7 linked regions of the Homo sapiens genome follow. The protein of the gene in region 2 interacts with the protein of the main gene of each other region in a pairwise test. Each region holds a gene or a part of one and is shown on either strand. Other genes may lie near its edges. The genes, in order: PKM, ARRB1, TCOF1, PPM1B, MAPK9, POU2F1 and EDNRA.

What was found.
Region 1: the proteins of ARRB1 (region 2) and PKM interact in binary tests that used the Homo sapiens proteins (3 or more experiments, as listed by UniProt).
Region 3: the proteins of ARRB1 (region 2) and TCOF1 interact in binary tests that used the Homo sapiens proteins (3 or more experiments, as listed by UniProt).
Region 4: the proteins of ARRB1 (region 2) and PPM1B interact in binary tests that used the Homo sapiens proteins (3 or more experiments, as listed by UniProt).
Region 5: the proteins of ARRB1 (region 2) and MAPK9 interact in binary tests that used the Homo sapiens proteins (3 or more experiments, as listed by UniProt).
Region 6: the proteins of ARRB1 (region 2) and POU2F1 interact in binary tests that used the Homo sapiens proteins (3 or more experiments, as listed by UniProt).
Region 7: the proteins of ARRB1 (region 2) and EDNRA interact in binary tests that used the Homo sapiens proteins (3 or more experiments, as listed by UniProt).

The regions. Positions count from the first base shown.
Region 1 is NC_000015.10:72,206,710-72,210,827, reverse strand, and holds part of PKM (pyruvate kinase PKM), read left to right. Parts: intron 1-349; coding exon 350-481; intron 482-968; coding exon 969-1,155; intron 1,156-1,936; coding exon 1,937-2,207; intron 2,208-3,550; coding exon 3,551-3,701; intron 3,702-3,947; coding exon 3,948-4,100; intron 4,101-4,118. UniProt on the Homo sapiens protein: Catalyzes the final rate-limiting step of glycolysis by mediating the transfer of a phosphoryl group from phosphoenolpyruvate (PEP) to ADP, generating ATP.
Region 2 is NC_000011.10:75,271,553-75,275,670, reverse strand, and holds part of ARRB1 (beta-arrestin-1), read left to right. Parts: intron 1-1,459; coding exon 1,460-1,597; intron 1,598-2,692; coding exon 2,693-2,776; intron 2,777-3,946; coding exon 3,947-3,970; intron 3,971-4,118. UniProt on the Homo sapiens protein: Functions in regulating agonist-mediated G-protein coupled receptor (GPCR) signaling by mediating both receptor desensitization and resensitization processes.
Region 3 is NC_000005.10:150,364,049-150,368,166, reverse strand, and holds part of TCOF1 (treacle protein), read right to left. Parts: intron 4,055-4,118; coding exon 3,915-4,054; intron 324-3,914; coding exon 250-323; intron 1-249.
Region 4 is NC_000002.12:44,171,628-44,175,745, forward strand, and holds part of PPM1B (protein phosphatase 1B), read left to right. Parts: intron 1-4,118.
Region 5 is NC_000005.10:180,232,797-180,236,914, reverse strand, and holds the end of MAPK9 (mitogen-activated protein kinase 9), read left to right. Parts: intron 1-383; coding exon of another isoform or gene 384-388; coding exon 389-531; 3' UTR 532-3,772; downstream 3,773-4,118. UniProt on the Homo sapiens protein: Serine/threonine-protein kinase involved in various processes such as cell proliferation, differentiation, migration, transformation and programmed cell death.
Region 6 is NC_000001.11:167,223,577-167,227,694, reverse strand, and holds part of POU2F1 (POU domain, class 2, transcription factor 1), read right to left. Parts: intron 1-4,118. UniProt on the Homo sapiens protein: Transcription factor that binds to the octamer motif (5'-ATTTGCAT-3') and activates the promoters of the genes for some small nuclear RNAs (snRNA) and of genes such as those for histone H2B and immunoglobulins.
Region 7 is NC_000004.12:147,479,558-147,484,248, forward strand, and holds the start of EDNRA (endothelin-1 receptor isoform a precursor), read left to right. Parts: upstream 1-1,539; 5' UTR 1,540-1,819; intron 1,820-4,691. UniProt on the Homo sapiens protein: Receptor for endothelin-1. Mediates its action by association with G proteins that activate a phosphatidylinositol-calcium second messenger system. The rank order of binding affinities for ET-A is: ET1 > ET2 >> ET3.

The sequences.
Region 1 (4,118 bases), on a different chromosome or scaffold from region 2:
TCTTAGGGAAAAAAGAACAGCCCTGGGGACACAGCTGCTTTTATGATGAGACATGTTTGCACCCATACCTTAATGGGTTTTGGTGGCAATATTCTGAAATTTGCCACCTACATTTCAAAGATTTGCCCTTTGGGTGAATTAGTGCTGTAGTAGAAGTGGGTGGAGGCTGAGGAGGTTGGATTAAGCAGGTAGAGGATTTCTCAGTGCATGGATCGTGCTGAGGATGGAGATAGAGCTCTAAGACATCCACGGGCCTTTCCTGAGTGATCAGCTTTGGCTCCTGGGCAGGGGAATTGGAGCTGGATTCTAGTGTGGGAGCACGCTTGTCATCTTCCTTCTTTTCCCCCAGTACCATGCGGAGACCATCAAGAATGTGCGCACAGCCACGGAAAGCTTTGCTTCTGACCCCATCCTCTACCGGCCCGTTGCTGTGGCTCTAGACACTAAAGGACCTGAGATCCGAACTGGGCTCATCAAGGGCGTGAGTATTCTGCGGAGAGCGAGGGGAAGGCTCAGTAGGCAATATGCCCCAGAGACATGTCCTCCAAAGCGCTGGGTTGCCATGTTTCTTCCCAGTACTATGAAGGACTGCAGAGGAGTTGAGGTCTACAAATGAGGATTTATTCATCACTGTAAACAATGTTGATTTGATCTACTTTGCTAGGAAATGGTACCACAAAGGAACCTTTTTTTTTTACCCTAAAAACCTAAACTTTAGGCTTTCTAACTTGGAGAACCATCTCTTTGTATCTTTTTCCCCATCATTAAGTAGCATAACTGAAACATATTCTTTTCTTGGATTATTTCCGTGAAGTATACAGAGTTAGAGAATAAGAGCAAAAAACTGTATTACTTTTAGCAGTGACTTGAGCATTGTTCCCGGGAGGAAAGAGCTTTTCCATTCCTTCTGAGGTGATGCTGCTACTGGTGTCTCCAGTTTGGACTCTTGCTTACTCTCTTGTCCCTAGAGCGGCACTGCAGAGGTGGAGCTGAAGAAGGGAGCCACTCTCAAAATCACGCTGGATAACGCCTACATGGAAAAGTGTGACGAGAACATCCTGTGGCTGGACTACAAGAACATCTGCAAGGTGGTGGAAGTGGGCAGCAAGATCTACGTGGATGATGGGCTTATTTCTCTCCAGGTGAAGCAGAAAGGTACGTATGGGAGCTGGAGTCCAGTTGTCTAAAACAGTCTTTTGTCTCTAAACTTCCTTGACACAAGGAAGATGGGAAGGTTGGTTGCCTGGCAGTGAGATTGAGTCTGTGTGTTCTCAGGAATCCCTTTTATAACTCATTTATCCTCAAAGATAGGCTTTAATCCAGCATAGTTACATTCTTCTGGTTCTGGAGAACACAGGAACATACATACATATATATATATATATACATATATATATATATATATATATATATATATATATATATATATATTTGTTTCGCTGTGTTTTGTTTTGTTTTCAAGACAGAGTCTCGCTCTGTTGCCCAGGCTGGAGTGCAGTGGCATGATCTTGGCTCACTGCAACCTCTGCCTCCAGAGTTCTAGCTATTCTCCTACCTCAGCCTCCTGAGTAGCTGGGATTACAGGCACCCGCCACCACACCCGGCTAATTTTTTTGTATTTTTAGTAGAGATGGCGTTTTGCCATGTTGGCCAGGCTGGTCTCAAACTCCTGACCTCAGGTGATCTGCCTGCCTTGGCCTCCCAAAGTCAGAACAGTCTTAATTATCCTTATTTATGGGTGAGGAAAGTGAGGTACAGAGAGGTTAAATGGCTTGCCCAGGATTACACAGTGTAGTAGGTTTTCAACTCTGGTAAAACAGCTCCAGCACCCATAATGCACCACTTCCCAGCTCACTGTCCTTGCGGGAAAGGTGCCTGCTTCCTGTTGACCTGTGCCCTCGTGCTCTGCCTCCCCTACTTACCCTTTTTCATACAGGTGCCGACTTCCTGGTGACGGAGGTGGAAAATGGTGGCTCCTTGGGCAGCAAGAAGGGTGTGAACCTTCCTGGGGCTGCTGTGGACTTGCCTGCTGTGTCGGAGAAGGACATCCAGGATCTGAAGTTTGGGGTCGAGCAGGATGTTGATATGGTGTTTGCGTCATTCATCCGCAAGGCATCTGATGTCCATGAAGTTAGGAAGGTCCTGGGAGAGAAGGGAAAGAACATCAAGATTATCAGCAAAATCGAGAATCATGAGGGGGTTCGGAGGCAAGTCCCCGTTGTCCCTGCTCCAGTCCCAGCGCAGCTCTCCGAAGGGCATGGTCCATCCTGTGAATGTCTGATTCCCAGCCCCTAGCCCATCAGAATGTAGACTCCCAAGCCAGTTCCAAACCTGCTGAATCAGAATATCTTAGGAGAGTAGAAGGCATTATGTTTTTTTGTTTTTGTTTTTTTGTTTTTTTTAAAAAAAAGCTTCCCAGGTAATTGAGATGCTGGCAGCTTGACATTGTTCCCTGGGCCTGGGGACCAACATTTGAGAGAACAGGGTCACTGCTCACAGGACCAGGGGCCATGATGTTCTGTTCCTGATCAGAAACACTACCAGTGTTTGCTGGAATGGGGGGACCAGGGGGAAAGATGACAGCAGACACTTAAGAAAGGGCTCTTTTTGGCCCTTCCTGGGGAGCCATGTGGAATTTCAGGGCCTGGTGTCCATGTTAAAGCTTATGGCCTCCTGGTCTTCACTTAGAATGCAGCTGGCTCAGTGATCATGCTAACTCTGGTATGGTCCATTCCACTCTCAGAGGAAGATGTGTGGTTCTTCTCCAGTTTCAGATTGCCCCAACTTAGCTTACCCCCTCCCCAATGCTCACAAAGTAGAGCCCAGTGGGCATGGCCACCATTTTTGGCATCCTGCTAGGAATACAACTCAGCACAACTAAGATGCTAGACACACTCTTGTGGATTAGAAGTGTGTTTGGGGAGGGTGGGGGAGCAACCCTGTGCACCCACTGTAGTGGCCTTACTGTCTGAGCTTTGTGTAGATATCCTCTGTACCAGGCAATTTGGGGTCCTCCCCTTTGCCATCCTGATAAGCCATAGGCTAGCTGAACTTGGCCCTAGGCCAGGCAAAGCCACATTCCCTCTTGCCTTCAGCAGGTTGGAGTGGGCCACCTCAAAGGGCAGTCCTCAAGTGTCCTTGACTAGATGAGGCCATGGGTCTTTGTGGTGGAAGCAGTCATCAGGCCTCAGGTTCCCTGTCTTGAAGTGCTGATTGGAAAATGGAGGCCCTAGAGAGACCCCTAACATGCATGGGATTTGGAGAGGAGACCTTGGGAATGAGCCCATTTGGATTTGCCCTCTCCCCTTTCTTCCGTCAATGAAGCATCCATATTGGTGTTGAAGCCCAGCAGGCAGAATTGTTGGCCCACTCTGGGGGCCTAAGGTAGCTGGACTGCCTTGCCATCTGTGTGCACCCATGATGATATCATGGATGTCTGTCCTGGTACAAGGACATCTAAGTTAGGGAATCCCAGGGAAACTTCTTGTCTACTGCCATACTTGTGGCCTCTGTTCTATATAACCTCTCTCCCCCCAACTTTGTCCATCAGGTTTGATGAAATCCTGGAGGCCAGTGATGGGATCATGGTGGCTCGTGGTGATCTAGGCATTGAGATTCCTGCAGAGAAGGTCTTCCTTGCTCAGAAGATGATGATTGGACGGTGCAACCGAGCTGGGAAGCCTGTCATCTGTGCTACTCAGGCATGTGCCCACCCTTCCCCACATTCTCATGTGCACACTCGCATGTTTGTATGGGAAAGCTCTGGAGGCTGTCTGATCTCTTCCCATGGAATTGTCGCACGTAACACACAGATAATCCCCTTCCCCCATGTACCTACACAAAGCCATACTCTGTGTACCTACTCACTATCCAGAGGATCAGCTTGCTGTCATTTGTCTCTGAAGACAGCTCAAGCTACATCTCACTAATGCTCTGTCCCCTCCCAGATGCTGGAGAGCATGATCAAGAAGCCCCGCCCCACTCGGGCTGAAGGCAGTGATGTGGCCAATGCAGTCCTGGATGGAGCCGACTGCATCATGCTGTCTGGAGAAACAGCCAAAGGGGACTATCCTCTGGAGGCTGTGCGCATGCAGCACCTGGTGAGTTCTGGGGCCTGC
Region 2 (4,118 bases):
GGCTTGTTCACTATCTGCTGCATGACAGCTCTCTCATTGGAAAGGATGGGGGATAGAGCAAAAGCAAGTAAAAATTGGACAATCAAAACACCCTATATATGATGGATGTGATCAAGCAAGTAAAGTTTTAATTGTTGAGCCTAGATGGTGGGTATATGGGTGCCCAAATAGCTTCATTTATGGTTTATGTGTAGCTATAATTTTTTCTTTTTAAAATGTGTTTAGAGACAGGGCTGGTGCTCACGCCTATAATCCCAGCACTTGGGGAGGCTGAGGCAGGCAGATCACTTGAGGTCAGGAGTTTGAGACCATCCTGGCCAACATGGCAAAACCTCATCTCTACTAAAAATACAAAAATTAGTCGGGCATGGTGGCGCGCCCCTGTGATCCCAGCTACTTGGGAGGCTGAGGTAGGAGAACTGCTTCAACCTGGGAGGTGGAGGTTCCAGTGAGCCAGGATCGCACTACTGTACTCTAGCCTGGGCGACAGAGCAAGACTCTGTCTCAAAAAAATAAAATAAAATAAAATAAAATAAAATAAAATAAATTTAAATTAAATTTGTTTAGAGACAGAGTTTCACTCTGTTGCCCAGGCTGGAGTGCAGTGGTATGATCATGGCTCACTACAGCCAGCCTCGAACTCCTGGGCTCAAGTGATCCTCCTGCCTCAGCCTCCCAAGTAGCTAGGACTACAGGTGTGCACCACCATATCAGGCTAATGTTTAAAATTTTTTGTAGCGATGGGGTCTTGCTATGTTGCCCAGGCTGGTCTCAAACTCCTAGCCTCAAGCAATCCTCCTGTCAGCCTCTCAAGTTGCTGGGATTACAGGCATGAGCAACTGTGCCTGCTGTGGCTGTACTTTTTTTTTTTTTTTTTTTGAGATGGAGTCTTGCTCTGTCACCCAGGCTGGAGTGCAGTGGAGCAATCTCGGCTCACTGTAAGCTCCACCTCCCAGGTTCATGCCATTCTCCTGGCTCAGCCTCCTGAGTAGCTGGAACTACAGGCGTCCACCACCATGCCCGGCTAATTTTTTTGTATTTTTAGTAGAGACGGGGTTTCACCTTGTTAGCCAGGATGGTCTCCAACTCCTGACCTCGTGATCTACCCGCCTCGGCCTCCCAAAATGCTGGGATTACAGGCGTGAGCCACTGCACCCGGCTGGCTGTAATTCTTTAAATAAATGTGCTTTTTAGCACTGTGCTGCTTGACTAGGATAATCTTTTAGAATATCCGAGATTCAGTCCTGTTTGTGCGTAGAATGTAGATGTGCCTCTTTTGAGTGGCAGTGGTCTCCTTGCCCGAGCTGGGCTGGCCCAAGTGGTCCGTGTGTCTGGGGGACAGAGGTTGGGAGAGGGAGACTTGGAGCAGGCTCAGACTAGATATTCTGCTGGGCTGGAGATCAGGGCTGGGGTTGGCTCTGGGGAGGGCCATCTCCACAGCTGCTTCCTTTCTTCCCAGTGACACTGTGGCACCCAGCTCGACGTTCTGCAAGGTCTACACACTGACCCCCTTCCTAGCCAATAACCGAGAGAAGCGGGGCCTCGCCTTGGACGGGAAGCTCAAGCACGAAGACACGAACTTGGCCTCTAGCACCCTGTGAGGACCTGCCCTCCTAGCCCTGGGCTCCTAGTGCATCTTGCCTGATGGGGCCACACCCTCCTTGGTCCCCCCAGTTCAAAGACAAGGCTCAGGCTACCCTCTCCATAGCCTTGTCAGGGCCTGTCCTCAGGTGCTTGACTTGTCAGGGAAGCTGCCTCCTTACTCCCAACCCTACCCAGGGGTGACTGAGAGAATAAGATGGACCACTAGGCCAGCTCACTCAGGCAGTGCTGGGCTCTGCTACCATGCCTGGGGGAGGGCAACCTGGGAAGGCTTCCTGCAAGAGGTGGCAGCTTCTGACGTAATGCCTTCAGTCAGATGGGGTGTCCCTGAGGAGAGACCAGGGTGGTGAGCTGGGTTAGACCCAACATGGGGTGCCCCTCCAAGTCAGGGGTCCCAGGGCATCTGGTCACTCCTGCTGCACAGTCATCGTGGACGCCTCTAGGCTACTCTGCTCCAGCAGAGCCCTGGCTATGGGGATGCCATCTTGCCCTCTTGCCAGTGTGGTCCTTCAGTGGGGCTTTGGCCTACGTCTAGAGCAGCCGCCACTCCCAGCACAGACTCAGCTCTCTTCAGCAGCCCCTGCACAGCCTCCCACTTACCTGAAGCTTTTTGCCCTGTCTCCACCCTGGCTCACACCCTACCCATCTTCAAGACCCAGCTGAAGCACCACCTCTGCGGAGAAGTCCTTCTCTGATGGCCCCCACCCCACCCCACCCCAGCTGCCTCGCCCTCTGTGAACTCCCCGTGTGGCCCTTTCTGCCCATGGGTTGCTGAGAGAAGCAGAATCCATCTGAGGGGAGGAGGAGCCTGGCCCTCATGGCGGGGACGCTGGCCTGGGCAGGGAGAGGGGCTCAGCAGGGCCACACAGTGAGCGAGTCTCACAGTCAGACTTGGAACCGGGGCTCTGGGTCCCTGCTACCTAAGGGCACTGCTCGCCTTCCTCATCTCCACTGGGCTCTATTGGACATGGTAGCTGAGTGGCTAGCCAGATGGGGGATGGACGGCCACTGCCCCCCAGCATACCCACCCCTGAGGTGTCTCGCCCACCTGGCAAGGCCCCTGAACTGGCTCCCCTGTGTCACTTTGCAGGTTGAGGGAAGGTGCCAACCGTGAGATCCTGGGGATCATTGTTTCCTACAAAGTGAAAGTGAAGCTGGTGGTGTCTCGGGGCGGGTGAGTGCTCCAGCCAAGCCCAAGACCCCGGAGTGCAGAGGGGAGCGTCCCAGGTGCCCACAGGCCCCTGCCCCATTCTGCCTGTTTGCAGCCCTTTTAGCTGCATCCACCTTGGAGGAGGAACCTCCTGTCCCTTCTTTTCCTCCCTTCTGTTCCTCTTTCTCCCCCGCCCGCTTTCCCTCTCTTCCTTCCTTGGCCCTCAGCCCCTCTCTTACCCCCACCCATCTCTTTCTCTCTCTCCTCCTCCTCTATCCTAGGTCTGGGCTCGCACTGAGGATTGGCCATGCCCAGGGGACGGCGTCCTCAGAGTCTTTGCTGTGGGGTCCCCAGGGGTGCCATCTCCTTATCACACTTTGGGCATAGCACCCACCCCCATGCATGCCCAAGCTGATTTTCTGAGGAAACAGCTAAAAGGGCTCAGAACCCAGAGCTGGATTGGGGATTTGCTAGTCAGCTTTCCCATTTTACAGATGGTGAAACAGAGGCCCAGACAGTGCCCCAAACATTGCCTGAAATCTCCTCTCCTAACTCAGGTCATAGTGGTGGACCAGACTGCCCTGCCCTGGAGCATAGTTTGGTGGAAGCTCAGGGAGAAAAACAAACAAACAAACTACTGTGTTTCTTTTTTGTAACTTAATTCATAAATTTCTATGAAAAGATTGAAAAGCTAAATCCCATTAGACATTGGGTCTCCTTGATTATTAGAAGAATGCCTCTTGGCAGGTGGCAGTATGTAATCCTGACCTTATATAATAGGACATCTCAAAATTACAAATCCCAAATCCTGTGTCTGGTGACCTTTCAGGACCCACAGTCCCTCAAACATTCTTGGCAACCCCGGAGTCCTTCCCTCTGCCTTTAGATAGTCCGGCCTCCCTTGGGACAGGCAGCACTGGGGTTAATTTTTACACTGCCTTGACAGATGAGGATCCTGGGGCTCAGGGGTTTGCTGAGCTGGGTCTGGATCCCAGTCCCTCGGGGCAGGGCTAATGCCATTTCGGTGTATCCCTGAAAGAGCAGTCAGGGCTGTGCAGGGGGGTGGGTGGGAGTGTGTCCCGTGGGTCTTCTCTATCCGGGGGACAGCAGAAGTGGTGAATGAATGTGCTTTTTGTTTTCTTCCTCTCTGAACTCTCTCCTGACCACTTCTCCTGCCTCCTCTGACCCACCCAGCCTGTTGGGAGATCTTGCATCCAGGTAAATTCCTCCCTTCCACCTGGTTCACCCACCTTCCTGGAGGGCCTGGAGCCCATTGGCTTGACTGACCAGAATCACAGGGCACTGGGTTGGAAGGAATCTTAGTGGTCATTTCAGATAGCCAGGTTCAGGTGTGAGCTGGGAGACA
Region 3 (4,118 bases), on a different chromosome or scaffold from region 2:
TCGCCTACCCCAGGTGTAGAATGTGCCCAGTGGCCCACTGCAGCAGGCATCATCCTTATCTTTATAGAAAAGTAAACTGAGGCCCAGAGAGGTGAAGGGACTAAGATCCCACAACTGGTGACACAGGTTGAGCTCTGAATCCAGGTGGGGCAATTACTCACAACCCTATCCTTCTCTGACATGTAAGACTGTCCCCTACCAGGCACCTTAAATCCCATAGGCAATAGCTTGGAAGGCAGTCCCACTCACCTTGGCTTTTTCTTTCATGCTTGATGGCAAGTCCGCCCCCAGGACTGAGGAGTTGGTAGATGCTAGTCTTGGGGCTGCAAGAAACAAACATCTGCTAAAGGAGCCAGATGAGCTTTTCTCATCTATGAATGGCAAACAGGTTTCATCTCACCTAACAATTCTATTGGTATTGGCTGCCTGGTGCTGGCATGAGGATCTGAGGCTGAGCCCAGACTTGCAGGAATGAGCTCTGTGATGCATCAGCCAGGTCCACCAGGAGCAAGAGAGAAGAGGATGGTAACATGAAGCTATGTGTCTGCATCCTTGATGGATTCCCAACTCCCCCGCAGCATGAGACGTGGAGGCCCCTGGAGGGAAAAGGACTGGCCCACATTCTTGCTGCCTACTGGGCACTGCACACTGCAATGGGCACCATTCACACAGGCCACCACACTGTAGCCCTGAAAGCTGTTCGGCAAGAAGGGGCAGTGGTCAGGCAGGCAGCCAGCCTCAGGTCCACAGAGAAAGTTGCCTGGAATTCAAATGGCTTCTTAGTGGAGAGGTGGCTGAACCATGCCACCTGGGCCCCGTTAGATATCGATATTCACTGATTCTCAGTGCTTATTTATTTACTGGGACAGAGTCCTGCTCTGTCGCCCAGGCTGGAGTGCAGTGGCACAATCTCGGCTCACTGCAAGCTCCGCCTCCTGGGTTCACACTATTCTCCTGCCTCAGCCTCCTGAGTAGCTGGGACTACAGACGTCCACCACCATGCCTGGCTAATTTTTTGTATTTTTAATAGAGACGGGGTTTCACCGTGTTAGCTAGGATGGTCTTGATCTCCTGACCTCGTGATCTGCCCACCTCGGCCTCCCAAAGTGCTGGGATTACAGGCATGAGCCACCGCACCCAGCTTCTCAGTGCTTTTATACCAGGGTATTGTCTCCTTAAATCTCAGATTTCTTTTTGTTAAGAAGAATGTTGGGCCGGGCGCGGTGGCCTCACGCCTGTAATCCCAGCACTTTGGGAGGCCGAGGCGGGTGGATCATGAGGTCAGGAGATCGAGACCATCCTGGCTAACAAGGTGAAACCCCGTCTCTACTAAAAATACAAAAAATTAGCCGGGCGCGGTGGCGGGCGCCTGTAGTCCCAGCTACTCGGGAGGCTGAGGCAGGAGAATGGCGTGAACCCGGGAAGCGGAGCTTGCAGTGAGCCGAGATTGCGCCACTGCAGTCCGCAGTCCGACCTGGGCGACAGAGCGAGACTCCGTCTCAAAAAAAAAAAAAAAAAAAAAAAAAAGAAGAATGTTGCTGAGATGAATGGCATGATCTAATTCTTTTCCTGGCACTTCACTCCATCTCTCTCTTTCTGTAATTATGGAAAATTTTTAAGTAGTAAATAGAAAGGAAGAACCAGGCAGCTCCAACCATTAACAACTTGTGACCAATCTTTTCATCTCATGTATTATCTCACTCACCCTTCCCCATCAAGCATTACTTTGAAGAAAATGCCATAGATCCTACCACGTTGCCCACAAATACTTCAGCATGTTTCTCTCTCAATGAGGATGCGTTTTTAAATTTTTTTTGAGACAGGGTCTTGCTCTGCTGCCCAGGCTGGAGTACAGTGGCACATTCATAGCTCACTGCAACCTCCAATGCCTGGACTCACATGATTCTCCTATCTCAGCCTCCTGAGTAGCTGGGACCACCAGTGCATGCCACCATGCCCAGCTAATTTTCTTATTTTTTGCAGAGACGGAGTCTCACTATGTTGCCCAGGATGCCAACGAGGACTCTTCTTCCTTTTTTTTTTTTTTTTGAGACAGTCTTGCTCTGTTGCCCAGGCTGGAGTGCAGGCACAGTCATGGCTCACTGTAGCCTTGACCTCCTGGGCTCAAGTAATCCTCCCACCTCAGGCCTCCTAGGCAGCTGAAACTACAAGCACACGCCACCATGCCTGGCTAAATTTTAAATTTTTTGTAGATACAGGGTTTTGCCATGTTGCCCAGGCGGGTCTCCAACTCCTGGGCTCAAGTGATCCTTCTACCTTGACCTCCCAAAGTGCTGGGATTACCGGTGGGTGTGAGCCACCATGCCCAACCCAGTGAAGACTTTTAAAAAAATAAAATTACATACCCGGAGGCTGAGGCAGGAGGATCACTTGAGGCCAGGAGTTCAAGGCCAGTCTAGGCAACATGGCAAGACCTCATATCAAAAAAAGCCCCAAACAAACAAACAAAAAAATGTAATTACACCTCCATTATCACAGCTTATAAAATTGATTAATACCAAATAGCCAATCAGTAAGAAATTTTACCATTTGTGTTTCAAATAGCATGCAGGTCTGTATATATGCATGTAAGAATACATGTTTGAATGAATATAGAGGCAAAGGAGGAAGTTTTAAAGGTTACCTATGAGGAGATGCACTTAGGAATGATAGGGAACAGGGTAGGACAACAAAAAACCTTTAAGTTTTCTTCTATATGCTCTTCTACAGTTCAAAGTGAACTCGTTTTGCATTTATAATGTAAAATTAAGCGATATATAATATATATCCAGGGCGCAGTGGCTCATGCCTGTAATCCCAGCCCTTTTGGAGGCCAAGGTGGGCGGATCACCTGAGACTAGTCTGGCTAACATTGTGAAACCCCGTCTCTATTAAAAAAAAAAAAAAAAAAAAGAAAGAAAAAGAAAACCCACAAAATTAGCTGACAGTAGTGGTGCATGCCTGTAGTCCCAGCTACTCGGGAGGCTGAGGCAGGAGAATCACTTGAACCCAGGAGGCGGGGGTTGCCCTGAGCTGACATCACGCCATTGTGCTCCAGCCTGGGTGACAAGAGTGAAACCCCGTCTCAAAAAAATAATAAAATATATACCTAGTATGATCTCAAACACTTTAAAAGCAGACTCAGGAAGCTGGGCATGGTGGTATGTGCATGGAATTCCACCTACTCAAGAGGCTAAGGCAGGAGGATCACTTGAGCTCAGGAGTTCAAGACCAGCCTGGACAACATGGCAAGACTTTGTCTTGAAAAATAAAAAATAAGTATTAAGAAATGTGTCTTCTATGTAAGCAAAAGAAGATAATACGATGCAAAGGAGACACAGCAATTCCTCTGTAGAGTTATGGCTGCTGTTGGGGAAAGTACAAGGAGCCCTGGGACCTTAGGAGAAGAAGGGGCTATAAAAGCTTTGACTGAGTTACTCCTGCAAACGGTGTAAAACCAGTGCCCAGTACAGCGTTCCAGTGCTAATGGGTACAATTCTAAATGAACATGAAGATCAGCAATTCCTAAAGCATCCCACAGGTCACACAGAAAATGTGTCCGCTAGCTGCTTTCTGAAATCCCTCCAGCAGTACTTCTGAACGTGTGTCTTCTTTCCAGCTAATAAGAATCACCTGGGAGCCTGTAATAGGGCAGCTCCTGGGCCCCATACACCAAATGAGACTGGAAGGGCCCATCTGGTTGTTTTGGTTCGGCCTTGCACCCCCAGAGCATGGAGATATAATGCCTGGCACGGAGGAAGGGCTCAAATACTGCCAAAGATATGTGGTGCCCTCCCAATCTCCTCCCCAGGGTCTTTTAGGTCTTCTAGTGATAAGAGAAGAAGCTGGAGGTAGACTCTACCCTAGAACAATCAATATTCCATAGCCTGTTCCCAAAGCTGCAAGGCTCTTACTGGCTTTGGCGGTTTCGGCTTCTGCTTCTTCCTCCTCTTCCGAGCTCTCCGAGGTGCTGATGGGGTCTGACACACGGGTTTTCTTAGCTTGCAGTGCCGCATCTTCCTCTGCCTTCCGCTTCCGACCAAGCTCTGAGGTTCTGCAGGACAAGGGTGACTGTCTATACCAACTGGGTGACAGAACAACTCCACAAGAATTGACTA
Region 4 (4,118 bases), on a different chromosome or scaffold from region 2:
ATGACCAGCCTGGCCAACATGGTGAAACACCATCTCTACTGAAAATACAAAAATTAGCCAGGTGCGGTGGCGCGTGCTTGTAATCCCAGCTACTCAGGAGGATGAGGCAGGAGAATCACTTGGACTCACGAGGTGGAGGTTGCAGTGAGCCGAGATTGTGCCACTGCACTCTAGCCTGGGTGCCAGAGTAAGACTCTGTCTCAAAAAAAAAAAAAAAAAAAAAAAGCTGTATTTCATGAATATTTTTATATGTAACTATTTTAAAGTATTTTGTGACATTACCTAGCATAGAAAGTAGTTAAGTAGTATAATTCTAACTCTCGCTTTTAAAAATGCAACATACAGTATTTTATATTTTCTGTGAAATATGCCTTTCACAATTCACTGATTTTAGTAAAAATTAGCAAACAAATAACTGGTGGCATCAGAATAATAAAAGTTTGTTTAATCCAAAATTATAATAGCAAAATTTATTCAAGTAATAGCATAAAATGTGAAATCATGATTATGGTAAGATAATTTTCAGGAGTATGATATTCCTGAATTTTCAGTTATTCTTCACACTGTACCTGATTTCTTTTTGTTTTTCCCTTGCTGAATTAATTTCAGAATTGGAATGAAATGGAATACTGCTATTATATTAGCAGCTTTAAAGTTTTATTGTAAAATGTATCGTATATTAGCAGAATTGATGGTTAAGTGTACTGACATTTCACTATGCTATACTCAAACATTGATGGTGAAATAGAGTTTTGGGAACTATTTAATTTTTGTAGTTTGTAGTTGGCTGTCATAAAATTTGCAGAATGACAGAACTGATCATCAGCTTCTAGTGGCTGATCTAACAAGAACAGGTGAAGAAAAAGGTACATGAGCTTCATAATGTGTATTTTTTCTTTGTTTTTGTTGGTGTTTACTTACATCAATACATTGAGTTAAAAAAATGGGTTTTCATCTTTTGGATTAATTTAAGTATGCTAAAGCCATTTTAGAATCTTTACAAGTAAAATGTTTCTAGGCCGGGCACAGTGGCTCACTCCTGTCCCAACATTTTGGGAGGCTGAGGCAGATGGATTGTTTGAGACCAGCCTGGGCAACATAGCAAGACCCTGTCTCTACAAAAAATAAAGTTAGCTGGGCTTGGTGGTGTGTGCACCTGTAGTTAGCTGCTTGGGAGGCTGAGGTGGGAGGATCGCTTGAGCCAGGGAGGTCAAAGCTGCAGCGAGCTGTGATTGCACCAGTTTGCTCCAGCCTGGATGACAGAGTGAAACCACGCCTCTATTTTTTAAAAAATTCTGATGTGACTTAATCTCTTTGTGTCCATTTGATTTGAGATGATTGACACTTTTGAACATTTCCATCCATATTCCTTTTCTTAAAGACTACCTAGAAGACTAACAAGCGTGGCCAGGCGTGGTGGCTCACGCCCATAATCCCAGCACTTTGGGAAGCCAAGGCAGGCAGATCACTTGAGAACAGCCTGGCCTGGCCAACGTGGTAAAACCCAGTCCCTACTAAAAATACAGAATTTAGCCAGGTGTACTGGCCGGCCAAAAAAGACTAACAGACCAGATACTGGAATCAGCGTTATGGTGAAAAGAACCCTTTACTAAATTCTTGATGATGTTACAAAATTTTCCAAAAGTGTAATCTATATAGTGTATTTATTTCTCAGAGTATTTAAAGATTTTGAGATTTAGTTTTTAGTAACATATAACATCCTAGGAAACATAAATACTGTACAATAACTTATATACTTTTTTTCTTTTTAGTTTTCTTTTTTCATTTCTTTTTTGCCCCTCGAGATCTCATACTTCGTAGTTTTCCTTCAAATTACAGGGTGCTTTATTTCTCCCCTTTGGTTTAACTTTAATAACAACCATAAACACTTTACTTCTGAATTAATGGTAAACCATGACACAGAAGAGTGCTTAAATACATTTTTTTCTTTTTGTTTTACTATAACTAATCACATCTACAATATCTTGTTATTGCTTGGCATAACATATACCTTTTATAATAATACTCTTCATGGCCGGGCACAGTGGCTCATGCCTGTAATCCCAGTACTTTGGGAGCCCGAGGTTGGTGAATCACTTGAGGTCAGGAGTTCGAGACTAGCCTGGCCAACATGATGAAACCCTGTCTTTACCAAAAAATACAAAAATTAGCCGGGTGTGGTGGCACATGCCTGTAGTCCCAGCTACCCCGGAGGCTGTGGTGGAGAATTGCTTGTACCCGAGAGGTGAAGGTTGTAGTAAGCCAAGATCACGCCACTGCACTCCAGATTGGGCGAAAGAGTGAGACCCTGTCTCGAAACAAAAATAATAATACTCTTTGTAATAACTTGTTTAACCTCAAGAACCTTGTAGCTTAATCAATTGTAGTATTTTAATTTGTTAGTTCATATATTATACATTTGACATGGTTTATAACATTTAAAACACACTTTACTAATTTAAAACTTTTGATTTATCACACAGTTTAATATTAACTTGTAAATATAAAATGGATTCAAACTTTTCTCTTGGAGAATGTTTAAGTATCATCAGTATTCTATTTTTTAGCTTTAAATTGATTCATTTCTTGAAAATTAAAAATCTTAAAGTTTAGAAACATAACACTTCTTGGAAAATTGTTTTGCATCCTTGTGAACAAAAGAAGATCCAGTTAAATCCGATCTCATACTTAGAGGAGACAGACAAACTTTGGAAGCCATGTATTGACTATTAAGGAACTTGTCTTTCTCTTAGAGATGGTACCAATTACTGGTAGTGATATAGGGAGGATAAGACTTGTCTCTAGGATTGCTGTGATTATTGTCTACGTAGAATGGCCTTCACTTCAGAATCAGTTGTGAATGAAAAGTACATTTGTGTGCTAGAAATAGGAAAAAACCTTGTCTTTTATAGAAAACTTTTAAAATGCAGTTATGTTATCAGGTAGATTCAAACGTATAATATACAAGAAAATAAAACAAATGAATAAGTGTTGTTTGCCAGAGAAGAAGCAGTTCTGATCAATAATATGTAGAGTAATTTGTAAGAGTTTGAAGGCTTGCGAAGCGCTTTTAAGCCTGAGAGTAATGTCAACTCATTTTTAAATCTAATCGCATTTTATTTTCTTGATTGTAGGTATCAAGAGCACTCCTCGCATTGAAAAGGGCTGGTTACTGGATGTTCTTATGAGTAGGAGAATCTAGAAGTGTCAGCATGGGTGTTTAACCTATTTGGGCAGTGTTTTTCCTTTTCCTTGTTCTGACTAAAGCATTTATCTCTGAGGTGGGGAAATGGCATTTTCTGTTGAACACAGGTGGCCTTTCTTAGTCCCTTAAAAAGAGGACATGACTGGGCCTGGTGGCTCACGCCTATAATCCTAGCACTTTGGGAGGCCGAGGTGGGCGGATTGTCTGAGCTCAGGAGTTCGAGACCAGCCTGGCAGCACGGTGAAACCCCATCTCTACTAAAATACAGAAAATTAGCTGGGTGTGGCGGCATGTGCCTGTAATCCTAGCTACTCAGGAGGCTGAGACAGGAGAATCGCTTGAACCCAGGAGGTGGAGGTTCAACCCAGCTGAAATCGCGCCACTGCATTCCAGCCTGGGCAAAAGTGAGACTCCGTCTCAAAAAAAACAAAAGTGGGGGTGGGGGAACATAATTAATTCAAAGCACTCCAAATGTTAAGATTATATAGGAGATTTTGTTGAGCTTTGGGAGGCTTTCTGCTTTTATTTACTCTGAGCTACCAACCCACTGAGAAGTAAAGAATTCAGAACAGTCTAATAGTATTTAGTCTGTAACCCTCCAGCCAATTCTTATGTTCACTGAGTGCCTTCTGTGTGCAAAGGCCCCCATTTCATGCCAGTATCTGAACAAAACAGACAAAATCCCAAATCCTTGTCGTTGACGATCTTGCATTCTGTTAACCAGCAACTCACAGTTTACATTACAGCTGAACTCCTTATGTGGCTGGCTTAAAAACTTGAGTGGAAGATTTGGGGTGTGTGTGTTTTGTACACTAAACTTAAAAGCTGTGATTAGAGCTTTACTATTTTTAACAAAAGGAAAGGAAGAGGTTTTCTGTAATTGGATAAAAACTAGACTGAAAAGAGGAAAGAG
Region 5 (4,118 bases), on a different chromosome or scaffold from region 2:
CTGGTGACACTGGAATCCTAGTCAGGCTTAAGCTTTTGTGATACTGCATTTTCAGATAAATATAGCTGTGTCCTTTTGATGTCTGCTTGAAAGCAGCAGGTATTTTTTAAGTAGCTAACATGATTATACATGGCCACATATATGTTTAGCTACTGAGAAAAAAAGAAGAATCTTGCAAGGAAAGACATAGGAATATGGGACTCTTGGCCCAAAGAAAGACTCAAGGAAAAGTTCAGAAAGTCCAGCTGACTGACTTCTTGTCTATACTCATAGTTAGGATTGGGAAACTGCAAAAGGACAGAGCCGAGAAATGGCCTGCAGTCTCGCTGCCTGGATTTGCAGCAATGTCGTGCCTCAGATTTTATTATATTTGGTTTTCTTAGCACAGATGCAGCAGTAAGTAGCAACGCCACTCCTTCTCAGTCTTCATCGATCAATGACATTTCATCCATGTCCACTGAGCAGACGCTGGCCTCAGACACAGACAGCAGTCTTGATGCCTCGACGGGACCCCTTGAAGGCTGTCGATGATAGGTTAGAAATAGCAAACCTGTCAGCATTGAAGGAACTCTCACCTCCGTGGGCCTGAAATGCTTGGGAGTTGATGGAACCAAATAGAAAAACTCCATGTTCTGCATGTAAGAAACACAATGCCTTGCCCTACTCAGACCTGATAGGATTGCCTGCTTAGATGATAAAATGAGGCAGAATATGTCTGAAGAAAAAAATTGCAAGCCACACTTCTAGAGATTTTGTTCAAGATCATTTCAGGTGAGCAGTTAGAGTAGGTGAATTTGTTTCAAATTGTACTAGTGACAGTTTCTCATCATCTGTAACTGTTGAGATGTATGTGCATGTGACCACAAATGCTTGCTTGGACTTGCCCATCTAGCACTTTGGAAATCAGTATTTAAATGCCAAATAATCTTCCAGGTAGTGCTGCTTCTGAAGTTATCTCTTAATCCTCTTAAGTAATTTGGTGTCTGTCCAGAAAAAGTCGATTTATGTGTATTAATTGGCCATCATGATGTTATCATATCTTATTCCCTTTTATGCTATGATTTATTCTATCTTTTGTATTTCAGAAGACATATAATTAAATCTATTTAATAAATAAAAATATATAGCTTTTCTTAGATTTGTGATGTTTGGGGCTGAGAATTATCACGGCTAAAACCAAGACACTTATGTGGACATCTTGTTTTCTTTAAACTGTCTTGTCTGGGATGATTGTACATTCAGCTTTACTGCACGATACAATTTTAAGTTTTGCTTAGTGCTGCTTGAAATCCTAGCTACCTTATCTCTTTTCTTCTTGGTCTTCTAGACTTCTTATGAATTTAAAATGCTACCTAGAACTTCACCTTCTTTATTAGGTGCGTAACACTCCATCTTAATTAAATATGATGGCAGATAGGTTCCTGCATCCATGGCCTAACGTTGGAGTGGAATTTTACAAAATGCTCACTAGAGATCACTGCAGTCATTTCCTAAGTGCTTCCTTTGCCACAGACTGGCCTGGGTCCTTTATTTACCTTCCCTCATTCACTTTCCCTCGGCCAATACCACGTTCTTGATTTTCTTTCTTCACTGGAAGAAAGCAGATAAACTCCTCTTTGGTCTGTTTTCAGAGGCCAGGCTGATTCAGATGCCTGTTGCTATTGTTGCTCTCCATTGTTGGGAGGCATTCCTTTTCACAAGAATGTTCTGGGAAACTCTTCAGAGGACGTGAAGGAAATACCCTGAAGAGTCATGATTAACTATTGACTATTTTCTGATTTAAAACTGCTCACCTGAAATTGATACTTTTAGACTTTACGATCAGTAAATTATTCAGAATTCATGAAGATGCTGAGTATGTTAAGTGTCACTGCAGGAACGGAGCTGTGGTGATCACGTTTTGCCTGCCTGTGCCCATGTCTCTTCCCTTGAGCTTATTCTGTTGCTGATTCATATCTTGTGTTCAATTATTTTGGAAGCTTTTCAGTCGACATTCTGTAGAGTGTGTTCTGAGGAGGAACTGTGATAAGAAAGTTTATTATAAATATTATGTAAAATATATGGCTCTCTCTGCACCAGTTATATCTTATTGGTTGGTCATATCACTGGAAACTGGAACCTTTGATTAGCAAAATTAATATTGAAATAAGAAATAGTTCTTTTATATTGTGTCATTTGGACACTTTCAAGTACAAAATGGTAATAATAACTTGGATTGAGGCGGAAACACCTATTTTATGGCTATCTATCTAAACATCTTAAAATGGCCTTCTCTGTAATACACTTTCTTTTAAAAGACTTCACTAAATCTATCTTTAAAAGGAAAAACAAAAGGGAGAGGTTGAAAATGCGCGAGCTGCCCTGCACTGTGTGATGCTCCCTCCCCGGGAGACGTGGACGGGGGACGAGGCACCCGCAGACGCCCTTCTGCTCACTCGCTCCTCTGTGCATTCAGCGAGCCACTTGCCACAGATGGAGCCCGTGACGGTGTGGAGGGTTTCCTGGAAAGGCCATCTTCCACCAGGTAGAGGCGAGCGTGCCTAGGACAGGCCACAGGGCTCCACAGAAATACCTCACCCCAGCTTCAGGGTTCTCTCTCCTGAGCCTAGATTTGCCAGGGTCTTGGTGCCACGCAAATGGTTTCAAACTGATCTCTATGGATAAATGCTGATGTTGGTTAAAGAACTGAAAAATGTGCTCAACTGTTTCATCTTTTCTATTTTATTTTTGTAATTTATATTGTACACAACCCAGGAAGTAACTATTTTGGACATGTATTTTTATAAACCAGGTAATTTACTATTATCCTGGAATTTAGACTAGGTTTGTTTCATTTGTTGACTTAGTTTCCAGCCAAGAAGGAAACGACTGTCTCCCCCATGTCCAGGTCTCAGTTTCAAGGGCAGAGTCCAGAGAGCAGACAGAGTTCTGTGAGAGCAGGAGAGCAGTCTGGAAACCCTGGCTGTGCATACCGTGTCAGCCGTGGGCCTGGAGATGGGAGCAGGTGAGACGCAGAGCCCCAGTACTGAGAGGAGGAAGCCCTCTTACAGGGCCCCTTGCCCACCCCAAGTCCGTGTCTGAAACACGGAGCGGGTGCTGCTTCAACCCGCATTTAATGCTGTGTAAGTAGCGATAACCACGTACGAGTCTGTCTGGTTGATTTCTAATGTGACTCCTCTGGTATTTCCTCCTGGTAATAAATACAAGTGTGACCTTTCAGATTGCATATCTCAAAAGTAACATTGCTAATGTTTTATAATAAAATATATTATGTGTGTTTTGGTTGGTGAAAATAATACAGACTACATTTTAAAAGATAAATGTATAGCATGTCCAATTTTTGTGTGTTTTTACATGGCAATTAGATATTTCTCCATCACCATCTCTGATGACAGATTTAACATGAACACAGATAGATGATAAAGTGTCATGCTTTTGATCAATATTAGCAAGAGGTTTCACACTGAGAGGCAGAAACATTGCTGTTTGTTCTCTTATTGAAAATATTCTGCAAATTCCTAAATCTGTGTTTTCAAAACTAATGGCAGTAAGTTTTGACTTCACCAATATGCAGGTCCAATTCAGAGTATTGGTGTAATTGTTTTCTCATGAGGCGTGGCCAGGAGAATTCACCAGTCAGCCTTAGTCATGTTACTTAACGTCATTCATGGTGCTTGTGGCTTTGTGCCTGGGATGAGCCAAGTTCATCTGACGTCTGTGTTTGAAGCACTTCAGGCTGTTTAGTACTTAATACCACAGGAGTGGAAGGACACTCAGTGGCTCACTTTCTTTTCTCTGCTTAAAAGGACTAGAAGCATTCCAGAGAGATGAGTACCAGCTGTGTGTGTGTGTGTGTGTGTGTGTGTGTGTGTGTGTTTAAGACGGAGTCTCACTCTGTCTCCCAGGCTGGAGTGCAGTGGCACTATCTCGGCTCACTGCAAGCTCCGCCTCCCGGGTTCACGCCATTCTCCTGCCTCAGCCTCCGGAGTAGCTGGGACTACAGGTGCCCGCCACCACACCCGGCTAATTTTTTGTATTTTTAGTAGAGATGGGGTTTCACCGTGTTAGCCAGGATGGTCTCGATCTCCTGACCTCGTGATCCGCCTGCCTCGGCGTCC
Region 6 (4,118 bases), on a different chromosome or scaffold from region 2:
ACTACAGGCATAGGACCAGGTACATAGCAGATACCTTTTATAGACTAGGATGGTAACTACTTTAAAACATTAATTATAATATTGCTTGCTGCAGTATGAATCAGCCAAAAAAGGCTGTATTTTTCATTAAGCAGACCACTAAAATAAGTGTACTAAAACAAGAAAACACCTAAGTCACTTTTCCATATAAAAATATATTCCCTTTAAGGTATCAGTGCAACTCCATTAAGGTAATCATATGTTTAAGCACAAATGAGTCGTTTAACACACAGCATATTGTTCATTTTCCAGCCATTCCTGTTTATATCTTCTATTGCAAAGAGAAAGTTCAACAGAGGGGGGGAAACCTGCCATAATAATTATTATTATTGATTTAATTTCATATACCATTTCTATATTCCAACATAAAAAGCATAAAGTTACAAAGAATTATGAAATAAATAATGTGATAAACTGCACTTGCTATGACTTTCAATATTGAAGACTTAGTAAAGCTACTACAAACACTTAGCTTTGTGGAATGTGAACATTGGCTGTTAAAAAAAAGTTAGTATAATGTATCCTCTCCGGATAAATGTCCAGGAGTTCCAGCAGTTTAAAAGAAATCTGGGCCAGGTGTGGTAGCTCATGCCTGTAGTCCCAGCACTTGGGGAGGCCACAGTAGGACTGCTTAAGCCCAGGAGTTTTAGACTAGCCTAGGCAACATAGCAAGACCCCATCTCTTAAAAAAAATTAAAAATAAGAGAAAATAAATGAATAAAAGATAATCTGATAAATCTAGAGGTTTGCTGATTCTTCTTTTGCTCAATTACTAGTCCTGTCAGCAAATGTAGGCAACACTGAAATCTTGAGTGCTTGCTTAATTGGAAATAAATAAATAAATAAATAAAACCCAAAAACAAAAGAGCTCTATTAGTCACTGAGTATACAAAGATACCAATGCTCAAAAAATTCACACCCCATAGTAAAAACACACAGAACCCCATAACCACATGCACTGTATGCAAGGAGCATCTTCAAATCAGAACTTCTGAAACTCAAGACAATTCTCATATTCCAAATTCTAAACATACTGTAAACGGATCAAGTAAGTCAGGCAATAGCTCTACTCAGGCTATTTTTGTTTCCATTGTTATTACTGCTGAAACAGTTTATAAGAGCTCATCACCTGTTTAGAACACAGAAATACTTCGGTACAAAACAAACCAATTTATTCCTAAGAAGAATTAAAATCTACAGTTATTCAATTCTCTTTACTTATGAAATGTCAATAATGCACAAAAATGTCCAGCGAAAGATGCATAAGGAAACTGCTATTCTCTGTGAACCTTAATTATTATCCCTTTCAACCACTCAAAAGGATATTTACATCCTTTAAGCAACACAGTAAGAAGTAAGCAAAATGGTGACTCAAAGTTACCCCAAAAAAAGGAAAAGGAAAAAATTCATGCAGAAAGGGTACAGAAATTCAAAGCAGATATGTCACTGAATCAAATCAACAACTTTCAACTCTAACGCCCAAGAAATAGTAAGTACATTTGCTCAGGCATTTAGCATTTAAGGAGGGATCAGAAACAAGAACATGGATAACCAAAAGGGGGCATGTTTTGTTTGTGACTTGGTCTGTTCCCTAAACGCAAATTACCTGAATAGTTCTAAATTCAAATGCAATCACTTTCATTAGGAAAAACACATTCCTGCTTAAAATCAGGCTTCATAGCAAGTCTTTACTAATCACAAAAACTGTGTAATTAACACAATTATATAAAGGCAAATTAATGAGTCACACAACATTATTTTTAATGGTGCTTGAAAGACTAATATGCAAAGATTACAACTATGGGGTTTCAAAATTAAAAAACAAAACAAAAATAACCGATAACAACAAGGCAATCACTACTACATAATATTACAGTCTTCCAAGTACAAAGGAAACATTCATGAAAATGAGTGACCAACTTAAAAAACACAAATAAATTCAAGATGAAGCAATACAGATTCAAGAAGCAGGTCAAATATTTCAATTTTTAATAGAAAATACTTAAAGATAACATTCAAATTTCCACTTCTGTTATTTCAGAACCACCTGCCTAAGATATTCAAGGGTCTATTAAACATCTTTGGTGGCTTGAGAAGAGCAACGTAACATTTTGAGCCCTGAACTTATTGCAAAATCCACTAACCAGATGAATGGCAGATTGACAATTACTTCAAACTAGGCAGCAATGAAACATATTTTATTTACACTGCTTTATACTACCTATTGATGTAGAGAATAGTAAATTTAAAATATGGCAGAACACTACACCTGAATTCATTTGAACCTGAATAATAGCTACGGTTTGTTTTTTCCTTGTCTACTGGGATTTTTGACAATGACAAAATGAAAGGAATTACAAACTAATTTGAGGGAAGAGGTTAAAAATTGCTTTTACGGTAATGGTTTGGAAGCAGAACAGTCCTTTAGAAATCAAAAACAGTTGGTCAGCTGTCACATGAATTTTCAAGACCTTGATTCAAAAGTATCATTGTAATTAATAGGTGGGAGAGTTAAGAAAGTGACAACGGGCTGGGCATGGTGGCTCACGCCTGTAATCCAGCACTTTGGAAAGCCGAGGCGGGTGGATCCCTTGAGGTCAGGAGTTCGAGACCAGCCTGGCCAACACGGTGAAACCCCGCCTCTACAAAAAATACAAAAATTAGCCGGGCGTCATGGCGCATGCCTGTAGTCCCAGCTACTAAGGAGGCTGAGGCAGGAGAATCACTGGAACCCACGAGGCAGAGGTTGCAGTGAGCCGAGATCGCACCAACGCACTCCAGCCTGGGAGACAGAGCAAGACTCTGTCTGGAAAAAAAAAAAAAAAAAAAAGAAGACAGTGACAATGGATTTCCTAGAAATACGCAGGAAACTACTTGACAGATGCAAAAGGAGACAGGCAGGTTATAAACTCATGTGGGTTCAAAAGTAACCTAAAATACTCTATCAAAATTGGATCACAAATTCAGGTTAGAAATAAAGCAATTTTATCACATTCTCAGGGAATTTTAATCATCACCTTAAAATAAACTAATAATTAAAAATATGAGAAATGTCTTACAAGAAAATCTATTAATATGTCAAAAATTCTAAGTGCAATCACTGTTGCAATGGAACAATTTTAAAATCACTAATCAAAACAAAATGAACAAACTTGTCCAGACTAAGATAAATCCAAAAAGAATTCTGAATTTTTTTTAAAAAATCTGTTTTAAAAGCACATGCTTTCCTGTGAGTATTCTACCTTATTTTCAACATTATCATTTCCACCTTAAAGAATACACAGCCCTCATTCTCAACTCTGCTTTATTCACTGAAATGGATTCTAAGGCAAATGGTCTCTCCATTAGCCTAAGCCATGCTCTGATTAAGAAACACAGTTTCTTATAAAAGTCTGGGGGATCACAACAAACATTTATATGGGTCACTTCTATGACTATCTATCTAAAACCCAAATACTCCATTTGAGAATTTTGAGGAAATGAATTTTTACAATAGCATTAAAAGTGAACCAAAATATAAGGCCAGTTAACAACATCCATCCTTTTCTGTATTACAAAAACTGTAACAGCGAAATTTTGCTTGTAAAATCCAATGTACATTTTATCATTTTGTATAAAATATCTACGGCCTCAGTAGTGATTAAATTGCAGCTATAAAGGAAATTGACCCGAAATAAATGGTTTCCCTATGAGAAGGCTTCACTGCTACACTTCACCTCAGGACAATAAATCAAATTAACTGCACCTTGTCCTCTGTCCAATGACATCATCAGTTTGACCACATCTTGGGAATCGGGTGCAAAAACATATGCTATTTAAGGCATGAAATTATATTGCTGCTTTTTGTCCATCTGACCTCATACTTCAGGTCTCTGAAGCAGTCATTCACCTGAAGGTTCTCTTAAAAGCTACAGATTTTTTTTTTTCCTGCTGCATTCAGGGCCTGCCTACTGTGAGTGAAAGAAGAAAAATGGTGAGAACTGGTTATCTGAAATTAGCTTGCGTTTAATCCATCAAACCTAGAATTTTGTTACAAATTAAACTGAAGACCAAAGTCCCACAAAATACATAGCTAGCCA
Region 7 (4,691 bases), on a different chromosome or scaffold from region 2:
AAAATATTGTCAGCTTGCCAAGCCACATGCCCAAAGGGTCACCTTTTTTTAATATAAACAATGGCACTTATAAAAGCTATTAGTTATTCTGGTTGGCTGATTCTCCCTCCTAGAGAAGCTGTAAGATTAGTGAACAGGGTAATATCTAGTCTAACCCTACTAGATGACTATTAAGGCCTCTTTCAATGGTGGTTTTCTGTAGATCTCTTTGATGGTTTTACAAAATGGTCCCTAAATTCTTTGACACTCCTCACACTAAGGGTTGGGCTCTATATACCCTCACCTTCAATCTGGGATTTGTGACTGCTTGACTAATAGAATCAAGCAGAAATGACACGGTGCCAGTTTCTGGGCCCAGCCCTTAAGAAACTGGCAGCTTCCACTTTCTGTCTCTGGGGACATTCACTCTTGGATCCCCGCCACCATGCTGTGAGGAAGCCCAAACCACAAGTCTCCACAAGTCTTTGTGGAGAGACGCACGTGGAGAAAAACTAACACTCAACACCAAGCAAGTGAACTGTCTTGGAAGTGGATCCTCCAGCCCCTGCTACATGGAGCAAAAACGAGCTGTCCCAGACAGGCTCTGCCCAAACTGCAGACTGATAAGCAGAGTAAATGAGTGTTGTTATTTTAAGCCACTACGTTTTATAGTAATTTGTTTAGCTGCAGCAGATAGCCGGAACAGCATGGGATATAACATGACCAGTGCTCCAACCTCACACTTCTACCATGTGCTGACTCTAGCAGTGCACTGAAGGACTCCAAGGCAGGCCTTCCCTGAGGAGACCCCAGTTTTTACTCACATGTCACAGGCAGTGGCCTTTGTCCCTCATCTCCTCTCCCACCCCCAATTTAGGATAAAGTATCTGCCGTGATAAAGACGTTGAGACCCACTTTCTGTAAGGTCGGCTTCTTCATTGTTTGAATTTCTTGAGGTTTCACGGAGCCACGCGCTGGAACCTTCCATAGTCTCTCCTGAGGCTCCTTCTTTGCCCTGGGCTGGAGGTCTGTAGCCGTGGGATGCTGGCTACAAGGGACAAGATAGAAGCAAACCACCTGATCCAGTAAACTGCTGTCCACTTCGGCTCCTCAACGGCCTCTAAGCTTAAGAGGGAGCACGCAAGCCAAGCAAAGGCGGCAGGGAAGACGGAGAAGAAACCACCCGTGGGCCCTGGCTCTGTGTCCAGTTGTTCCGTCACAGATCAAATCTGCCTGCACTAAGAGGATGGGTTCCTCTGCAAGGCCTTTCGGAATTCTGAGTCTTGTCTGTCAAACTCTACCCTCTCTCCTCCACATCCCCCACCTTTTCTTTCAGGAAGGAAATAGTTAAAAAAGACTCCTGCCCTTCAGGGCCTGGAAGGGGGCGGCAGCTTTGTGCTTTTTAGTGGCCGCGTCCCAGGATAGCTGGAAGGTTAGGACGCTCTTGCGGTCCCAGAGTGGAGTGGAAGGTCTGGAGCTTTGGGAGGAGACGGGGAGGACAGACTGGAGGCGTGTTCCTCCGGAGTTTTCTTTTTCGTGCGAGCCCTCGCGCGCGCGTACAGTCATCCCGCTGGTCTGACGATTGTGGAGAGGCGGTGGAGAGGCTTCATCCATCCCACCCGGTCGTCGCCGGGGATTGGGGTCCCAGCGAGACCTCCCCGGGAGAAGCAGTGCCCAGGAGGTTTTCTGAAGCCGGGGAAGCTGTGCAGCCGAAGCCGCCGCCGCGCCGGAGCCCGGGACACCGGCCACCCTCCGCGCCACCCACCCTCGCCGGCTCCGGCTTCCTCTGGCCCAGGCGCCGCGCGGACCCGGCAGCTGTCTGCGCACGCCGAGCTCCACGGTCGGTGCAAGTCTTTCTTATCGGGGACTGGGACTGGGGCGGGTGCGGGGATGGCGGAGACGCTGCCTGGGCCCCTCGGTCGGGAGAAGACGAGAGCTGGGAACGTTCTGGCCCGACCGCCCTGCAGCTTGGGCGACCCGTCGCAGCAGGGGCTGGCACCCACTTGCCCCAGGGCGCGCGGGGAGGCGGGCGCCTTCCGTGAGGGGTGCGCTGCGGACACGTGTAGAGTTCGGGGAACTTCACCTCTCCACGTTAGGGTTTAGGATTCGGAGTTTTAGGAAGAGGAAGCCCAATAGTTTTCCCTGGGTGACCCCTTTTCCCCAGGCATGCAAGAACTTTGAGGAACGCCAAGCTCTGTGGCTTGCTCCAGCGCCTTCTTGTGAAGTTGGCTCCACAGCCTTTTCTTACTGGCTTGCTTTTCCTCCCCCACATCTGGGTCTGGGTATGCCAAGGGTAGCCAAGGGCACTCGGTGTGAGGGACTGAGGTGTTTGGGGAAACCCCCTGTGTAGCTAGTTTTGGAAACCTGCCTGTGGAGGTCTGGGCGTTTTGTTCTGTGCTCGCCTTTAAAGGACACTTGTTGCTTCTCACGTGCAGAAAACAAGGGCTGCTTCTAGATAATCACCCTCTGTTTACATCATCCTAATGGCTTTCCCCTGATAGAGTTGGGGGTGGGAGGCATATTAAACTCAGGCGTTGTCTCTAAGGAGAGTTGCTCATTTCTTAACCAGAGAGCAAAACCTCAGAAAACTTGTAAAAAGTTCCTACTTTTACTTGTTTTTTCCTCCACCTGTAGTTGTCTATGTGTTAGCTAATTGAGAAACACCTTGGCAGTCATTTCATGTAAATTGAATGCTCTAAACTCATGCCATTTTGATAAGGTCTGAATTTCCAAATTACCAATTACAGGTGAACTTTGATCCTGAGAGTCTCATATGTTAAATGGTTAAAGTGTAAGCGTAAGGATTCAGTCCTCTTTCTTAATAATAGTTTTTGCACTCCCCAAACTCTCAGATTCCAAACAGGAAGAATGCTGAATCTATAGACCATGTCCTTCAGGTCTGAACCTGAGATGCTTCACTAGCGCTATGACTGATTATGAGTGATGATTCAAAGCACAGCCTGACTCAGATTCCTGGAAATGAGCTACAGACCCACCTTGGAAGAACCTGCAGTTGAGGGGCTTCTTTCATTTGGTTTTGTACTTTTCAGCCAATGATAATATGACATCCACAGGCCTTTGCCAAGTATCCCTTAGTTTTGCAGCTTAACATGTGTGGAGAGCTGATAGAGAAGTCATCAGAAATGATTTCTGTAGTGGTGTCATTGTTGGAGGAGGAAGGAAGGGGGTTTTAATGATAGCTGGCTCTCATGCCTTAAGAACCCACAGCGTTGGCCTTACCTCCTGGCATAATCAGCTAACCAAGCAGACCAGCATGCTAACGTTCAAAGCACCACAGGACCTCTGATGAGTAGAGCAGTACCCACCGTAGCCAGGTCAGTTCACAGGTCAGTTCCCAGCCGACTGTAACCGGCAGAGAGCCATTCCATTTCTGCAAAGGCCTTCTCTCTCTCATTTTTAAGAAAGCTGTTATTGAAGGTTCCCTTTCATTTGGGAAGCTGGAAGACGTTAGTCACGAAACAGCACAAGATATGAAAGTATTTCTTCTCCCCCCTGTATCTGTGATCCAAAAAGGAGGATGACAAGAAGCTTTTCTCTTGGAGTCCTGGTGTTCCCTTTGGAATGGAAATGGTGTCATTTCATAGGTCTATCAATTTTTGGCCAGATACTCACTCCAGATTATAAGAAGCAGGAAAAAACTGCAAACTGTTTATAATTAAGTCTAGTCAGAGCTGACAAATACATGGCCTGCCTCTAGCCTTGAAAAATTGATATTTTTCCCATTTAATCAGAGTGAGTCAAGTCCTATAAGCAAAATTATGTGTCCTGCCATTTCTTGGCTTTGAAACCTTGACCTAAATACTTCTTCAAGACTCTGGTTTCCTTATAAGTAAAATGGAGATATTGCTCCTGCCTACCTAGAGTCGTAAAGCTCAAGGCAGATAACAGATACATATATAATAAGTTACTATATGTAAATACTATTATTATTTCAGAGTTCAGGGGGAAATCTCTGGGGAAGGCAAAAGTATCCAATACTCGCACTTTATATATACCCTATACTTTCTATGCAACTTGAATAAATCTTATTTTATCCACGTATTGGCCAAACCTAAGCTTTACTGATTTCCCAAGATAATTGTCAAAATTCCTAAAAGTGGTTAACATCAACCTTGAATACACTCAGAAAAAGGATTCAATTTTATTTTTTACTTTTTATTTATTTAATTTTTTTTTTTTTGAGACAGGGTCTCACTCTGCTGCTCAGGATGGAGTGCAGTGACTCGATCATAGCTCCCTGCAGCCTTAACCTCCTGGACTCAAGTGATTCTCCCATCTCAGCCTCCCAAGTAGCTGAGACTACAGGCACACGCCACCATGCCTGTCTAATCTTTTTTATGTTTTGTAAAGACAGGGTCTCACTAAGTTGCCCAGGCTAGTTTCAAACTCCTGGGCTCAAGTGATCCTCCTGCTTTGGCCTCCCAAAGTGCTGAGATTATAGACATGAGCCACCACACCCAACCAGGACTCAATTTTTTTAAGATTAAATTATGACCTGGGTATATACATCACAGACACGTACACACACCACCGCATAAATCAGATTATGTCTTCATTTGAAGATTCATAAAAGCCTACAGAAAAGGAAATATATAAAATATTGAAATAGGATGAGCTATTTTTAATTATCTTTGATTATTCCTTATTAAGGTCTCCTAGACTTCCTGGACAGGAAGGACCACTTGCTCTCT